Homo sapiens: one gene and its partners. The protein of the gene in region 5 purifies or fractionates together with the protein of the main gene of each other region. This does not show direct contact. Each region holds a gene or a part of one and is shown on either strand. Other genes may lie near its edges.

The links.
Region 1: the proteins of SRGAP1 (region 5) and RAPH1 purify together in Homo sapiens (affinity purification with mass spectrometry; one large-scale study listed by BioGRID and IntAct). This does not show direct contact.
Region 2: the proteins of SRGAP1 (region 5) and NKTR purify together in Homo sapiens (affinity purification with mass spectrometry; one large-scale study listed by BioGRID and IntAct). This does not show direct contact.
Region 3: the proteins of SRGAP1 (region 5) and ARHGAP1 purify together in Homo sapiens (affinity purification with mass spectrometry; one large-scale study listed by BioGRID and IntAct). This does not show direct contact.
Region 4: the proteins of SRGAP1 (region 5) and ROBO1 purify together in Homo sapiens (affinity purification with mass spectrometry; one large-scale study listed by BioGRID and IntAct). This does not show direct contact.

The regions. Positions count from the first base shown.
Region 1 is NC_000002.12:203,486,791-203,490,309, forward strand, and holds part of RAPH1 (ras-associated and pleckstrin homology domains-containing protein 1), read right to left. Parts: intron 3,300-3,519; coding exon 2,794-3,299; intron 1-2,793. UniProt on the Homo sapiens protein: Mediator of localized membrane signals. Implicated in the regulation of lamellipodial dynamics. Negatively regulates cell adhesion.
Region 2 is NC_000003.12:42,638,675-42,642,193, reverse strand, and holds part of NKTR (NK-tumor recognition protein), read right to left. Parts: coding exon 2,444-3,519; intron 1-2,443. UniProt on the Homo sapiens protein: PPIase that catalyzes the cis-trans isomerization of proline imidic peptide bonds in oligopeptides and may therefore assist protein folding. Component of a putative tumor-recognition complex involved in the function of NK cells.
Region 3 is NC_000011.10:46,680,117-46,683,635, forward strand, and holds part of ARHGAP1 (rho GTPase-activating protein 1), read right to left. Parts: intron 2,067-3,519; coding exon 1,935-2,066; intron 1,264-1,934; coding exon 1,177-1,263; intron 994-1,176; coding exon 895-993; intron 632-894; coding exon 524-631; intron 448-523; coding exon 371-447; intron 167-370; coding exon 89-166; intron 1-88. UniProt on the Homo sapiens protein: GTPase activator for the Rho, Rac and Cdc42 proteins, converting them to the putatively inactive GDP-bound state. Cdc42 seems to be the preferred substrate.
Region 4 is NC_000003.12:78,630,996-78,634,514, forward strand, and holds part of ROBO1 (roundabout homolog 1 isoform a precursor), read right to left. Parts: intron 3,048-3,519; coding exon 2,940-3,047; intron 311-2,939; coding exon 166-310; intron 1-165. UniProt on the Homo sapiens protein: Receptor for SLIT1 and SLIT2 that mediates cellular responses to molecular guidance cues in cellular migration, including axonal navigation at the ventral midline of the neural tube and projection of axons to different regions during neuronal development.
Region 5 is NC_000012.12:64,127,700-64,131,218, reverse strand, and holds part of SRGAP1 (SLIT-ROBO Rho GTPase-activating protein 1), read right to left. Parts: coding exon 3,495-3,519; intron 3,359-3,494; coding exon 3,019-3,358; intron 1,046-3,018; exon of another isoform or gene 487-1,045; intron 1-486. UniProt on the Homo sapiens protein: GTPase-activating protein for RhoA and Cdc42 small GTPases. Together with CDC42 seems to be involved in the pathway mediating the repulsive signaling of Robo and Slit proteins in neuronal migration.

The DNA of each region.
Region 1 (3,519 bases), on a different chromosome or scaffold from region 5:
CTAGGAAAAAAGCAAATGGAAGCAAGTTCCGGGTTTGTTAAACCACCTTTCTATACTCCTAGGTGAGGCAAAAGAACAGGCTAGCTAGATAAGGCTTTTTAACTCCTTTCCCTGCTATAGTCCTGGTTTACTCACCAAACCTTACATTAAACTCTTATATTAAACATTATACCATTGAGCACTGGTATCTTTGCAGTATTCACAGTGATACCCATGGATACCACTAGATACCATTTGAAGTGCGCTTGCTGGGAGAGAGGAACTTTTCACGTTTTACTTCAATTTGCCCCTATACTGTATGAACTTTTATAATGAGCACATTTTACAGACAGAAAGACATGCATACGGTATTAGAAGATCCTTAATGATTAGTTTATAACTTGTCCCTCACGCATCTTAATCCAACTCAAAATACTGTAAACTGATTGGAAGGAATATCAACATACAAAACAAAGAATGGCCAAGAAAGCACATCCCTAATAAAATATTGCTCATATCCTAGCAGGTAAATCTAAAGGACATGAAATGATACATATTAAGTAGCTGGTGGCTAAATATAATTCCCAGGTATCACAAAATAGAAATCAGTTTTTTTTTTCCTTTTTTTTTTGTAGACGGAGTCTTGCTGTTGCCAGGCTGGAGTGCAGTGGCACGATCTTGGCTCACTGCAACCTCCGACTCCCTGGTTCAAGCGATTCTCCTACCTCACCCTCCCGAGCAGCTGGGATTACAGGCATGCGCCACCACATCCAACTAATTTTTTTTTGTATTTTTAGTAGAGACAGGGTTTCACCATGTTGGCCAGGGTGGTCTCAAACTCCTGACCTCAGGTGATCCGCCCGCCTCGGCCTCCCAAAGTGTTGGGATTACAGGTGTGAGCCACCACGTCCGGCCTAGAAATCAGTTTTCAAGTTCTCTATAGAATATATACCACTTAGATAAGTTTCATTTTAAATAAATGAAAGTTTATTCTTCAGATTGATAAGATTCGCTTTCTTTGAAATAACTCAAGTTTATCTCCAAACCACCATGATTCATACTCCTTTTGTGCTCCACAGTACCAAAAACAAAGCTACGCACATGGGTGGGTACCAAGAGTTACCTACTGATGGAAATTAATCCAAAGAATTAAATAAGTTACGAAAAAAAAATCAATGATGTCAAGTAATAGTTAAAATTCAAGATTTTACTTTAGTACTGATTATTCATAAATAGATTCTTTTATCCCATATTAGAATATTGTCAACACAAGCTTATTGGAAAGGTTGACTTAACTTTGCCCCATTTTTCTTCTTTCTTGCTGCTACCCTATGACAGAATTACCATCTCTTTGATGAAAACAACTCAATAAAGAATTCTCTTTCACCAAACTCAGCTTTTGTTGAACTTGTTACCGCAAATCTATTCCCTATCTTATCCAGTCACATGCTGAAAAAAATTCCATCTTTTAAAAATCTGTTCATGAATAACTTACGGTTCTCTGAACCACCCTATCAGGAAGGCAGATATAGTATTACGAACTCTGGCTGGGCGCAGTGGCTCACACCTGTAACCCCAGCACTTTGGGAAGTGGGCGGATCACAAGGTCAGGAGTTTGAGACCAGCCTGGCCAGCATGGTGAAACCCCGTCTCTACCAAAAATACAAAAATTAGCCAGGCATGGTGGCACACGCCTGTAATCCCAGCTACTCAGGAGGCTGAGGCAGGAGAATCACTTAACCCGGGAGGCAAGGTTGCAGTGAGCCAAGATCATGCCACTGCACTCCAGCCTGGGCGACAGAATGAGACTCCGTCTATTAAAAAAAAAAAAAAAAAAAAAAAAAAAAAACCTGTTTATGAACAACTTTTGTTCTCTGAACCACCCTATCAGGAAGGCAGATATAGTACTATGAACTCCATTTTACTTGTGAGAAATTGATGTTTAAGAGAATAACTCACTTAAGGTCCCATGGGTAGTGAGTGGCAAGGAAAACTCAGAATCAAGTTTCCTGATTCCATACCTGGTGGCCCTTTCCAATATACCATACTGACTCTTCAATAATGAAATGGAGGGCCGGGCACAGTGGCTCACGCCTGTAATCCCAGTACTTTGGGAGGCCAAGGCGGTTGGATCACCTGAGGTCAGGAGTTCGAGACCAGCCTGGCCAACATGGTGAAATCCCATCTCTACTAAAAATATGAAAATTAGCTGGGCATGGTGGTGAGCGCCTGTAATCCCAGCTACACTTGGGAGTCTGAGGCAGGAGAATCACTTGAACCTGGGAGGTGGAGGTTGCAGCGAGCTGAGATCACGCCACTGCACTCCAGCCTGGGCATGAGTTGTACAAGAGTACAAACTCCATCTCAAAGAAAAAAAAAGGAGAAAAAAAAAAAGATAATGAAATGGAGTTAACCCTGTAAACTAGAATCTTGGAGGACCACAATGGTGATATGAGTGTTTTTCTTAAGTTTTACTTTAAATCAACATACATTAAATAACTAAATGGTTTTGTGAATCATTTTAATTTTTCAAATCACGTGAAATGACTCATATTACAATAAAAAATGCCATTCAAGAACTTCCAAATACTATAGTCACGAGAATAAAAAAGAAACTAAATTTCTTCTAAATCATCTTTGTGCCACTACCATATCTGATAATATATTCCTTCTGTACTCTTGAAACCTATCTCAGAAGTATCTTTGACAAATTATAAATGTAGAAGAATTTAAGAAGTTAATTAAAATTATTTTAATATAATTTCTCCTTTATTTTAATAACAAAATACCAGGGAAAAAGTTCCATTTATTTACCTCAGTAATTGGCTGCCCTTGATGTGTCAAATCCAGCTCTTGAGGGCGTGTTACTTTATCAATATCCAAAGAGTCCATGCTGGAGGCTGCGGAAGTGATGCTGGAATGGGAGGAATTACTAATAGAGTGTACTTCAGCATCACTCACTGTGCCTGCTGACGCGGTTCTTCTGTGCTGATTAGTTACTAAGGGTTTAGTATCTTCTAGTACAGATTGCTGAGCAGCCTCATCCATACTCAAAGAGGCCTGTTCTAACTGTGCAGTGACGTCGTCCAAGGAGTAGCTGGCATGGGAAGGTTTAGCTATCCTATTAGATGAAGAAGATAATCCTTTCAAGGTGCCATGTTTCAATGTATGTCGGCTAACAGGCAATTTCTGAGTAGCTTTCGTTTCTGTGATTTGACGCTTACTGTTTCCTGAACCAATGCTGCTGAGCTCCTGCTCTATAGAGCAAAGATCAGCCATCAAGGCATCCAGATCCACAGTCTCTCCCTGATTCAGAGCTTCTGCAATGAACAACACATAATGTTTCCAGAATTTATACATTCTATTATAAATCAGTTAATAAATGCAGGTGATGAAGCAAAAGAATATATTTTGTTGGGCCTAAAGCAAATAAAATTAAGTATTTCTGGTTTTTGTTTTAAATTCCAAGATAAATTTTTAGAAGTACACAGTCCTCCTCTTTTAAGGCTTGTAATAATCAGAGGAGAATAAATTATGAGT
Region 2 (3,519 bases), on a different chromosome or scaffold from region 5:
AAAAAACATTAAGGTAGAGATATATAACGAAATATTCTGAAGAAAATGAACTACAGCTACATGTTTCAGCAAGGATATATCTCTAGAACACAATGTTGAATGAAGAAGGCAAATGTAGAACATCTATATATATAAAAGTATTTTACTTAATAAAAAGTGCAAACATAACATTGTATAAAGATAGAAACACTTGGGGTAAAGCTATAAAGAAAGACAACAAAATTATAACCAAAGTTTAGAATAATGGTTAACTTTGGGACATAGGCATGCACCTAGGGGTGGCACTGGTACATCAAAGCTCTATTTTTTTTTTTTTTTTGAGGAGTCTTGCTCTGTCGCCCAGGCTGGAGTGCAGTGGCGCGATCTTGGCTCACTGCAACCTCTGCTTCCCAGGTTCAAGCAATTCTCCTGCCTCAGCCTCCTGAGTAGCTGGGATTACAGACACGCACTACCACGCCCGGCTAATTTTTGTATTTTTAGTAGAGACAGGGTTTCACCATGTTGGTTAGGCTGGTGTTGAACTCCTGACCTTGTGATCTGCCCACCTCGGCCTCCCAAAGTACTGGGATTACAGGTGTGAGCCACCACACCCGGCCCAAAGATCTATTTTTTAAGCTAGATGGCAGGTACATGAGTATGTATTATATAGCTTTTTATACTTTTATCATTTTTTATGTCTAATACTTAATAAAACAAGCAAAAATGTAAGCAGTACAATTCTGCCCCTCTGCATTCACTTGGCTCCCCACCCTTCTCCCCTACTTTAGGCCTGTCATTCAGGAACAGAACAATACCTCTGTGTACAGGTGACATTATGTAATATCACCATAGGTTTTATTCAGTATGCACTATGTTTTGGAAGACATGACCTGCTTCCAGTATATCTGCAAGAAAATGAATACGTTATGTTCTAATAAGATTGTAGTCATTTATTCAACCAAAAATAATAAAGCCAGACCCTGTGAGGTGACTGAACGATGAGTAACACACAGTTCCTGACTTCAAGGAGTTCACAGCCTAATGGGGGTGTCAGGCCCAGGCAGGTAACCAAAACAGGGAGGCAGGGCAGCACCCAGGCTTATCCATCTCAGTCTACTACCTGTTAGCTGCATAGCCTAGAACAAGTCCCTTAGCCTTTCTACGCCTTGCTGTCTTCATTACAAACTGAAATACCACCCACTCCAAGGCAGAGGTGGGAAGGTAAATGAGAAGAGTGGCCAGCATCACGAATAGCTCAGAGCTGTCTCTGTGTAAATGGTTAAGGCAGATCATAAGCAGACAGGAAGCTGGAGTCGCTCAATAGGCAACTGCATCTATCAACAGGAACTCAGAGAGAAAAGGCCATGAGGAAGAAGAGAAGCCTAGAACACAGGGACGAAATGGCCTGAGTGGGAGAAAGGAGAGCTAGCAGAGGGCTCCAGAAGTGAGGCTGAAAATACGCCATGGTACTGGCCATCAGAAGTACCTGAAAGTCTTAGTCAGTAAACTAAGAGATGCGGGGAGGGGAAGGCACAGAAGGCAGCAAGCACACAGCCGAGGAGAAAATGGGAGACCGAGTATAGATGGCACGTGGCGGTTCCTTTTTTAGGAAGTCTGGGTAGGCAAGGGAAGAAAGACTGATGAATAACTAGAAAGGAAACAAACGTCAAAGATTCTTATGGTATTTTCAGTTCAAATGATGAATATCAAGCACAATAAAATAAGGGATATGAATAATTAAGAAACAGGTAAAACCATAAAATATTTACAAGAAAAAGAATGCAACACAACTGCTTACTAACTTCCTATTACCATCACAAATATTTTTAGTTTTTAATTCTCATCTCTGTTATCCATTCTATGCTGACAAGTTATGATGCAATTTATAACAATAACAAAAAACCTTTTCATGAAGGTGCAGAGTGACAAAGATGAGAAAAAGGTGTTTTAAATTCTTTTATTGCTTTTCAAACAACAACAAAAATCTAAAGATGATCATTTTTATCCCTATGCCCCATCTAAACTAAGATGCATGTCTTGGGCAGGTAACTTTGTCTCTCTGGCCCTCAACTTCCACATGTGTAAAATGGAAGGTTAGATTAATGATCTGCAAATTCTATATATTCTGTCAATTCAGGATTCCCTTCTAAGGCATCACTTGACTGGCAAGAAGCAGCCTCACACCTTTAAAGATGGAGAATTTACCACCTATCATGGGAACTCATTTCTAGTGACAGAGAGCTTTAAACTGATAGTAATAGTTTTGTAAACCCAGCCCAAATTTCTCCTCCTGAAATTCCCTCTCCCTAAGTTTTCAATCTACTCTCTGAATCACACAAAACAAGACTTCTTATTCCTTTCAGATATTTGGAAATAGTGATTCTGTCCCTAATTCTGATATTCTTCCAAGCTAAACAATAACAGACTCTCCTTGGGAGAAGAAAGGAAAGAGAATATTGCTCACCGATAAGATGATGTGGAACTTCTCGATCGACTTCTTGAGTGACTATAGGAGACAGACCTTGTTCTGTGTCTTGATTTGGTTTCAGATTTACTTCGAGATCTACTTGGACTCCTGGACTGGCTATCATCATCCCGACTAGGCGTCTGCTCATCACTTGAACTCTCCTGATTTCTTGGTCTACGGTTTAAGCGTGCTGTCTTTCTTACTTCATCAAAGAGAGACCCAGGCCGAACTTTATTTTTGCTTTTAATTTCTATTCTCAAGCCTTGTGGTTTCATTTCAGGCACAGTGGTCAACACCTTAACTTCCACAGCACTGGATGTGGCAGCATTAGGTGCTGCCAGGTTCCCCACACCTTGCAGGGGCTTCCATTTCTTATCAATGAGGTTGATCTGGCTCTTCTCAGCCACCTCCTTCTTCCCGGTACTTTCTCCAGCACTAGCCAAGCTAGCAGAGCTGCTGTCCTGTTTCCCCACTTCACCCAACACTTTACTTTCGGACATGCTGCTTTCCTGTTTTACTACCTCTGCTTGAGGATGTTCCGTTGCCATATCCTGCTTCAAAACAATGTTTATATCTGGGGTATCAAGCCGTGCATTTCCTAGAGGGGAAGTCTCCTCTACTTTTGCTGGGGAACTCCTATCAGGAGTGCAGATCTCCATGTTGTCATCTGTTTGAAGCACATCTTCCACTCCATTGGGAACACTTTCTTCAACGTGCTGAATGTTTTGTAAACAGGCCACATTTTCCTCAGTATTTAAAGCTGTGGGAGAAATACTGAGTTTACTATCATCTTTAGTAAACTGATCAAGATCTGATGAAACAGTCACTGTATCATGTTTACCTGAAAGGTCCTCTTCACTGGATTTCTCAGTTTTTAGAATATTATCTTTTATGGTTTCATTGTTTTCAGAAACTTTTTTCTCTTTTGATTCCTGAGTAACTTGCTTGTCATCAATCTCCTCCTCCTCCTCTTCACCAAATTCTAGTGGAGGCTGCCAGTGAAATGCTTGCTTTCGTTTTGGAGCCTTATGCTTTTTGTCTTTTTTCCCTTTCAATTTCTCTTTCACTTTTTT
Region 3 (3,519 bases), on a different chromosome or scaffold from region 5:
GAGACTCTCATTTACAGGGCAGCAGAGGGCAGAGAAGCCCCCTACCAGTAACACACATATGGCCCTGCAACAGCCCAGGGCTGCTCACCCATGTTGTACTTCTGCTGCACTTCCCGGACCACTTGGGTGTTGGCCGACCTCCGGAAGATGCCCTCGGTGGTGAGAGCTGGGAAACAGTAGGGCCTGGTGAGCCTCCGAGCGCTGGGCACCGGCTGGATTCCCTGCCCCTTCTCTGTCTTGGGGTTCTAGGCAGGGCTGGGTGGGGACGTTGAGGCTTGCAGGACCTCCCTCTGCCCTGCCCAGCAGCTTCCCCAGCTTCCTGAAGGGAGCCGGGAGACCTGGCTGGTGAGGAGGCAGGCCCGGCACTCACCGTGGGCCTGTAAGTAGGCAACAGTCTCCCTGAGTACAATGGGAATGGGCTCCTGCTCTGGATTCTTCTCCTGGAGGCTGCGGGAAAAAGGCTGGTGAGCCGGGCCTGCAGCCCTTCCCGCCCCGCCGTGGCCCAGCCACCTTTCATACTTACTGCTGCAGCGAGACTCCAAACTGCTGGTTGGGCAGGGGGGGCCGTGGGGGCATGGGCTTGGGGGCTGTCGCGGGGCTCTTCTGTGTGGATTTCAGGAAGTCGTCATATCTGTAGGAGTAGAGGGAGGTGGGTCAGGTCCTGCCTGGCTCTGGAGTCACTCTGCCAATTCAATCAAGCATTGACCACGCGGGGTCAGGAGGATCATCTCATGCGATCTCTGTAACAACTCCGCTTTCCACAGCAGAAAGCAAAGACCTGGGAGAGGTCGGGACACGGGCTTGCTCTGCCTAAGCCCCACGCGGTCTCTGAATCAGGACACACGTCCTCATTACCCTGGCTTCACGAGCCCCCAGCCGCCGCACCCGCCTCACTTGAGCACTTGGCGAGGGATCCCCAGCTGCTCCAGCTTCACGTGCTCGCTCAGCTCGCTCAGGTAATTCACATAGAAGATCTTCTGCCCGAACTTGAAGCTGTTGGTGGAAGAAAGGGCCTGGGTTGTGGGGGCCCGCTTCCGGTGGCCTCCACTCTCCCCTCAACACCCACCCAGTTCAGACGGAAGCCCAGCCGCACCTGGTGGTCCCCAGGCTGCCCAGCCTCCCAGCTTCAGAGTTCCAGGCAAGCCGGGACCACCAGCCCTGCCCGTGGCCACTCACCTGATGAGGGGCTTGAAGAGGATGAGCAGAGTTTTGATGAACATGGTTGGATGCACGATGTACAAGGCCTTGATGTTTTTCTTGTACCTGCAGAGACAGAATGGACAACTCAGGAGCAGGCGTGGTGGGACAGGTGCCACGCTAGGGTCCCAGTGCATACTTTTTTTTTTTGAGACAGAGTCTCCTTCACCCAGGCTGGAGTGTGATCTCAGCTCATTGCAGCCTCCACCTCCCGGATTCAAGCTATTCTCCTGCCTCAGCCTCCTGAGTAACTAGGATTACAGGCACCCACCACCACACCTAGCTAATTTTTGTATTTTTAGCGGAGACAGGGTTTCACCATGTTGGCCAGGCTGGTCTGGAACTCCTGACCTCAAGTGATCCATCCGCCTCAGCTTCCCAAAGTGCTGGGATTACAGGTGTGAGCCACCACACCCTGCCTCAGTGCATATTTTCTGATTTGAACATGCATGGCCAGCATGCGAGGTAAGGGCCATCACTGTCTCATTTTACAGATTAGAAAACAGGAGGCTCAAAGAGGTTAAGTAAAACAAGAGGTCAGAGTGCAAATAAGCTGAGAAACTGGGCCTTACTTAAGCCCAGGGTGATCTGACTGCAGATTCTTTACATTGACGTAGACGGCAGCCCCCGCCACCCCCTGCCTTGGAATAAGCTCCTGCCCAAGTGGAGGGCAGCCCGGAAGCTGGCAGAGCCGCTGCCTCTGGATCTGACTGTGCAGGCCCCATGCCCCAACCCACTTGCGGTCAAACTCCCGGTAGGCATCACGGAGCCAGCTGAGGGAGGGCTTGTTGTCGCTGGTCAGGCCGTGGTGCAGATACAGAAGTGTGTAGTCACTCTCCACGTACTGGTCCAGGGTGTGCTTCAGGTACCTTCCAGGGAAAAGCCCTGCTCAGGCCTGCCCTGTGCACAGGGGCGGCCCCACGAAGACAGAAAGCAGCCCCAAGAGTCTCCCACCACGTCACAGCCCCTTCCCCACAGGCCCTCCCCTAGCACAGTCTGTTCTGGCTCATAATCAGTCACCAGGTTGCTGTGGAGGAGGCCTAGGGTAGAGGCTGGGCAGAGGAATGAGAATAGTAATAACAGCTCTCAGCCGGGCGCAGTGGCTCATGCCTGTAATCCCAACACTTTGGGAGGCCAAGGCGGGTGGATCACCTGAGGTCAGGAGTTCAAGACCAGCCTGGCCAACATGGTGAAACCCCATCTCTACTAAAAATGCAAAAATTAGCCGAGCATGGTGGTGCAGGCCTGTAATCCCAGCTACTCAGGAGGCTGAGGCAGGAGAATCGCTTGAACCCAGGAGGCGGAGGTTTCAGTGAGCAGAGATTGTGGCACTGTACTCCAGCCTGGGCAACAAGAGTGAAACTCTGTCTCAATAATAGTAATAATAATAACAGTTCTCACTCTTGAGCAGGAACTAGATGTCAGGAGACCAGGACCCTAACCCGGGCCTGCCTAGGCCTGCAGTGAAAAGGGGAATGACGTTTCCCCTGAATCAGGGATTTCTCTGAATCAATAATAATGATGACAGTCACCATTTCTCAATATTAAGTTTTTAGTGTCTGCCAAGCACTTCACATACATTAGCTCATACATTGCTTATAACTGAGGCTGATGTAATCCCCATCCTACAAATGAAGGCAATGACCAGAGAGGTCAAGTGCTGATCCAAGGTCACACAGCTTGTGGTAGATCCTGGAAGTGAAGTGTCTAACACCAAAGCCTGCTTTTTTTTTTTTTTTTTTTTTGAGACAGGGTCTTACTGTCACCCAGGCTGGGGCACCGTAGCGCAATCACAGCTCACCGCAGCCTTGACCTCCCAGGCTTAAGCTATCCTCCTGCCTCAGCCTCCTGAGTAGTAGGAACCGCAGGTGTGAGCCACCACACCCGGCTCTTTTTTCTACTTTTTATTTTGTAGAGACAGGTCTCACTATGTTGCCCAGGCTGGTCTTGAGTTCCTGGCCTCAAGCAATCCTCCCACCTCAGCCTCCCAAAGTGCTGGGAGATTACAGGCATGAGTCACTGCACCTGGCCGAAAGCCTGCATTCTTGACCATGGGACAGCTTTGCCTTCTACACATGAACTCCAGTGCCGGCGGTAAAACACTGTGCCCATGAGAGGGGATGGGGTGGCCAGAGAGTCACCTGCTCCAGTCACTGGGCCTTTAGTGGACCAAAGAGCCCCAATTCCTCTGGTTCCCTATTATGCTCATGACACGCTATCTACCAGCTCAGCACAAACATATACACACCTGGTGTTGAGCACACTGAGAGTTATGGATGGAATGAACAAGAACTGGGGAAAGGGAAGGGAGTGTGTGTAAAG
Region 4 (3,519 bases), on a different chromosome or scaffold from region 5:
AAGGAGAATTTTTACTTCCTGCTGACCAGCACTATTTTATTTAAAGGCAACTGTTTGTGGACCTTAGGAATCAGTCTTCTCTTGACCACCTAGTATAATAATTGCTGAAAATGGGCTGAAACAATCATATTACACTGTTTACATCTGTTTGGATGCTCCTCTTACCTTTCATCTACAGAAATGTTGTACTCTTCGCTATTGCTGTGTGGAGGAGGATGTGCTGGGGGAGGAGGAAGCAGGTCTGCCCAGTTCATGCCACCCTGTTTTGGTACCTTGGGTGTTCTTGCCCCTTTCTTGTGCCCCTGACTCCCTAGAAAGGAAATAAAATAGAAGCCATTGATCTCTGGCCTTTAAACTTTTTCCATTAGTCACAAGTTAATTATTTTTTGTAAATATGATTTTATAATTCATTTATATATACAGAGATAAACATGCTTTTTCATTAATTTTAAACAGAACTTTGTACAAGAGAACATGCAAGGTACTGCCATGAATAACTGCAAAATAAATAGCAAAAAAGCAATAAAACCATGAATGAATGTTTCAAGTCATATCATTAATAGTGATCTTCCTGCAGCAATTAATTGCATTATGGATTATCATCTCAAACAAATGAGCTGTAGATATATTTTCTCGAGTGCCTTTCTATTATTTAATTGCTGGAACTTAAAATACAATATGATACAGATACGATCTATTAGAGTTCCACTGTTGCATTAAATCACTGAATATATATAATTTGTACTTGTCCATTGAAATGTTTTAGGCACAATGAAATTACTAGTTCCCTTCAGAAAGGCAAGTACAGATGAAATAATAGCTGGAATAACTGATAGAACTAATGACAAAAGAAGCAGAAAAATGATTTTTAAAAGGGACAGAAGTGTTTTCAGCCACTGTTTCTGTACAATGATGGCTTATGGTAAAATGATGTTGCTTGAACATTCTTAGTAGTTTGACATAGCCCAATCATTCAAGTGCTCCAGTGTTCTCATTTTAGATCTGGCATATTTTTTAAACACAAGAGGCTATATATTTGAGAGCATTTATTTTAACAAAAACTTTAGGTCAACAAATATTTTGGGACAAAATATCCCCTTTCCAATATGTTATATTTTTGATTCATATGTGAATTATAGACAATGAGTCTATGATTATTTTTCTCATAAGTTCCCTTTATATCAGTGCATTATGTTGGCCTTAGTTTTTTAACCCTATCCAATCCTTCTCCAAGTCATGTAATATATGAATCAGGTCTGATCATATTCAATGAGCCTTGATTTTTTTGTCACTTGGGAATTTTCAGTCAAATGGCAGTGTTTGTTAAGCCAGATGTTCTTGTACTGGTAGGTTACCACACTAAGCGTGGGCTAGGGACAGGCTGTTATTAATAAACTACGATTATCAGTCCTATGTGTATGTCTCTCACTTCTCTCGTCCACCACTCCGGTGTCCAGCATTGGGATAACTGTGCATGTGTTGTAGACTAGACATTAACCCACATCTTCCTCTGGATTTCCTGATATACATCTACTGTAGCAACTCCATCAGTCCGGAGAGGCCTATCACAGATCTCTCCTATACCTTATTTACTTGCTTTGTTCTCTTCCCTAATTACCATCACGCATCTTTACATCTTTTTACCATATATTCACAGAATATCAAATGATATATAGCAGTAGAACACCCAGATCTAGGTATCTAAGCTGAGGGATGCTGAAGGTCAATTAAAGATTAATAACCTAGAATCATTGTTTATTTTCCCATTAAGATATGGTTTTCTCTATGTGACTAAAAATTCAAAGATCAAATGGCATAAGATAATCAAATATTAAAATATTTCATATGATTTTCTTAAAAGTAGATCCTTGAAATATTTCTCTTAATTCAGGATTGACTTAGCTTCAAAAAAGAAGTCATTTAATAAGATGTTAATTGTTAAAACAAACAAATAACATATAATAGAATCAGAGTAAATCTAAAAGGTAAAGGGCCATTTCTAAGCTCCCTTAATTCCAACAGAAACACAGGCTAGACAATGCCAGACCAGCGTGTTAGTTAAGGGAAAACTGTAAAATGCAAATGCCATATTCATTACAGAAGAAGGGTGGAGACTCTTGGCTAAAAGCCCCTAAGAACAACTTTAATCCAGTTGCTGGGAAGTGGCATTTCTACCCTCTCCTGGAGAAACATTGCTAGAGTCAAGATCAGTCGGTTTTGTTCTCATTGTGGTGTGATGTGCCACATGTTAGTTCTAATAACGAACTGCCTTTAATTAGAAAAACAGGACTTAAGTACCCAGCAAGCTCCCATCTGCAGCCCCTATCAGGAAAACAGCTGGCAAACAGCTGTAACAGCATGAAGACCACAGGGAAGAGGCCTCAATGTGGCTTTGGGAGGCACTTACAGACTGAGGTTGGGAGGTTGCTTTACGAGGCTTCAGAGCAAGAACTGAGGGATCGTAGAGGGATGATAAACTGAGACAGGCTCCTATTGTACCTGAATCTCATGTTATTGTCTCTCCGGCTTTTGATTCTGCTCAAGTGTCCTCAAACATTATGTGCTTTTATAGGCTCGTTTCAAATGGCAACATATTTAGCAGGTTAACTCTGTGCAACATTTTTAGTTATATTTTGGCCAACGGGGAAAAAGTTTCAACTGCCTTTAAAGATTAACCAGACATGTTTCTTCTGGCTTTGCTAAAGCTCATTAACAAGGAAGAAAATAGGACACTTAGTCTTTTTGCCAAATAGAACATAAAATGATTTAGTGAGTGGAAAGTCCCTCAAATTGCAGAGACAAGACACATGCCTGAGACTCAAATTACATACAGTGATTTAGACATGTCACCTACATACGTCAGTCCATTAGCACTCAATTTGTAATCTTGGAAAGTACCAGCTTTTTAAAGGAGAAGTTCTTTGGTTCATCTTACTTACCAGATGTACTACTGCCCCGGTCTGAGCTGTTGTAGGATCCTCCTGTGTTCTGGTCGTATGATTGGTTGTATGGGATAGTTGGAGGAACTGTGTCATTTGCTCGATAATCTAGACATATCAGATGAAAAAACAATAAACATTTATTTTCTCTTCATGAGCGATTTCACATCTCTGCTTTCTCTATATTTCTGAGTAACTAAAGAAACAAATTGGACCATTTATTTGCCTTTTTTCTCTTCTATTGTTGTATTCAGATTGTCAGGATATAAAAAGGCTTATACTCCAAATATATATAAACTATAAATAACTTTAATAATATAATATCAATATGATTTTAATAAGAATCACAAAAATGTCTGCAAATCATAAAAAATAAATCACAATACATAAAAATAAAACTGAAACCTGTCAGCAAGGTTATATCTAATAAAAAATATATCTATGATTAAAAAAAACAAATATCTTAATTTGCCCCAGAAATGCTTCTGCTTACTTAGGCAAAGGTGAAAATCCAAATGATAAGCTTGCCACTGGAATGTAGTCAGTAATAATCTGTCGTCTAGTTGCATTCCAGGTTCTT
Region 5 (3,519 bases):
AACGGGTGACCTCAGCAGAGGAGGATTTTGATAATCAAGTGGATAGGATGAGCCATTCTGTGGACACCATTCAGCCTCTTTCCCCAGCCACCCCTGTTCTTGCTCAATGGGCCCATGAACAAAGTGGCCATAGTGGCAGGGATGGAGGTTACTCATGGGCTCAGCAACATGGACTTCCACTCACCAAGGCTGACCTGGCTATGGCCACTGCTTAGTGCTCAATTTGCCAGCAGCAGAAGCCAACACAGCCCTCGATATGGCACCATTCCTCAGGGTGATCAGCCAGCTACCTGGTGGCAGGTTGATTACACTGGACCTCTTCCATCATGAAAAGGGCAGAGGTTTGTCCTCACTGGAATAGACAGTTACTCCGGATATGGGTTTGCCTATCCTGCACACAATGCTTCTGCCAAGACTACCATCTGTGACTCATGGAATGCCTTATCCACCATGATGGTATTCCACACAGCATTACCTCTGACCAAGGCACTTACTTTATGGCTAAAGAAGAGTGGCAGTGGGCTCATGCTCATGGAATTCATGGGTCTTACCATGCTCCCTATCATCCTGAAGCAGCTGGATTGACAGAATGGTGGATTGGTCTTGTGATGTCACAATTGCAACACCAACTAGGTGACAATACTTTGCAGGGCTGGGGCAAAGTTCCCCAGAAGGCTGTGTATGCTCTGAATCTGTGTCCAATACATGGTGCAGTTTCTCCCATAGCCAGGATTCACGGGTCCAGGAATCAAGAGGTGGAAGTGGAAGTGGCACCATTCATCATTATCCCTAGTGACCCCCTAGCAACATTTTTACTTCCTGTTCCCGCGACATTATGTTCTGCTGGCCTAGAGGTCTCAGTTCCAGAGGGAGGAATGTGCCACCAGGAGACACAGCAACAATGCCATTGAGTTAAGATTGCCACCTGGACACTTTGGGCTCCTCCTACCTTTAAGGCAACAGACTAAGAAGGGAGTTACAGTGTTGGCTAAGGTGACTGACTCAGACTATCAAGATGAAATCAGTCGACTACTCCACGATGCAGGTAAAAAAGAGTGTGCATGGAATACAGGAGATCCATTAGGGCGTTTCTTAGTATTACCACGCTCTGTGATTAAGGTCAATGGGAAACTACAATAGCCCAATCCAGGCAGGACTACAAATGGCCCAGACCCTTCAGGAATGAAGGTTTGGGTCACTCCGCCAGGAAAACAACAACAACAACAACAACAACAACAACAACCACGACCTGCTGAGGTGCTTGCTGAAGGCAAAGGGAATACGGAATGGGTAGTAGAAGGTAGTCATCAATACCAGCTATGACCACGTGGAAACAGGGACTGTAATTGTCATGAGTATTTCCTTCTTTCGTTAAAAACATGTTTGTGCATGTATACACTTGTACTAGGAAAATATCTTCATTTTATTTCCTTTTTCCTTTAGCATGTGACATAAGATTATATTGACTTCCTATCAGCATTTAAGTATTGTTAACTTTATGTAATAGCATTTGGGTTGGGGATTGGTGTGTTTCCGGTTATAGGAAAGGACAGTTGTATCATGTTAGGCGTAATTATGACATTATTGTTTTTATTTGAAGATTATGTACGATCTCAGGAGATGTTTATGGGTTCAAGTTGACAAGGGGTAGACTTGTGATGGTTAATACTGAGTGTCAACTTGATTGGATTGAAGGATGCAAAGTGTTACTCCTGGGTGTGTCTGTGAGGGGGTTGCCAGAGGAAATTAACATTTGAGTCAGTGGGCTGGGGAAGGCAGACCCACCCTTAATCTGGATGGGCACCATCTAATTAACTGCCAGTGAACATAAAGCAGGCAGAAAAACATGAAAAGGTTAGACTGGCCTAGCCTCCCAGCCTACGTCTTCCTCCCGTGCTGTATGCTTCCTGCCCTTGAACATCAGACTCCAAGTTCTTCAGTTTTGGAACTTGGACTGGCTCTCCTTGCTCCTCAGCCTGCAGATGGCCTATTGTGGGACTCTGTGATTGTGTGAGTTAATACTTAATAAACTCCCCTTTATATGTATATATATTCCATTAATTCTGTCCCTCTAGAGAATCCTAATATACCTAGGTAATTAAAAAAAAATTTTTTTTTTTAGACACGGGATTTTGCTATATTGACCAGGCTTGTCTCAAACTCCTAACCTCAAGCTATCTTCTTGCCTCAGCCTCCTAAAGTGTTGGGATTACAGGTGTAAGCCACCCACTAGGCCTACGAACATATGTTCTCATGGCCTGTGCTGTGAAAAGAGCCAGAACCAGAGGGAAAAATGGTAGAATGATGGGCAAATTTATTAGTATTGTTTCCCTTTTACTTGGTCAATTTTAGTCATTAGAAGAAAACTACACAGCCCCTCTGCAGTCACTGTTGGGAAGCAAAGACCTGAATGTGTTCAGGAGGTACATAGGATCCAGACTTGTTCTTCAAATATCTATCTATTATTGATCACATTATTTATTAGGTCTCATCTTTTCTAAGTTGAAAGTGCCATCTTTATCATATACAGTAGGGGTTTGCACTATCTGTGGCTTCAGGCATCCACTGGGGGTCTTGAAACATATGCCCTGCAGATAAGGAGGGACTACTGTTTTAAGGTTTTTCTGTTTCTGGGCTCTCCATTCTGTTTCATCCATCTGTCTGTTTTACTAGCTTTAGAATGCATTTAGGATCTGGCAGGGCCACTGCTTTCCCATTCTTCTTTTTCAAAGTTTTTCTGGCTATTCACAATGATAGGTTTGAGTGTCCTGGTCCTACGTTTTTGTCATGTTTCTGTTTAAATCACTATGAACCTTTGGGCCCTTTCAGTAACAAATTGTTCAAAAAAGACTCAGGGCCTAAGTTAAAGAATGAGCTGGTTTTGTTTCTGTTTTCTTTAGTTGGTTCTATACAGAAATATAAAGTAAATAAAGTAAAAAGTAAATAAAGTAAATCTTTCACACCTCCTACATCACACTTAGGTACTTAAAATGCAATATGTAATTAAAAGCATCGTACCTGAGCAATTGTCTCTGGGTCCAGTGGCTTGTGGTCATTGAAGCCCGTGTATTGCCCTGATGACGTGGACCTTCTAATGGGAGGGCTGTCGATCTTCTTGAGGGAGTCGTGCCGGCTGATGTTGGTCAGGCTGCCATGGCCAGGCCTGCGCCTCCGCTCAGGACTGTCATTGTTGAGGCCACGGTTCTGCAGCAGGCCCCGGGGGTGACTGGCAAGGCTTGGGGACCCTAGGTCAACTGAGGAGTTAGAAAGGGCATGTGGAGGGTGGAGCGGGCAATGGCCATCACTGGTCCTGCCAGGACGCCTTACTGGAGGGGGTGGCTCTCCTCTTTTTCGTTGCCTAGACATTCACAGAAACAGGGAGAAAACAGAAGAGCTTATCACACCGGGCAGTACTGCAAGGCTGAGGTGCAGTGGCTCCTCATGGCCCCAGGAGGAGCGGAGGCTTAGGGGCCTGATTCCCAGGCTCTACTTACCTGGCTAAATAGCCGTCAGGATGAC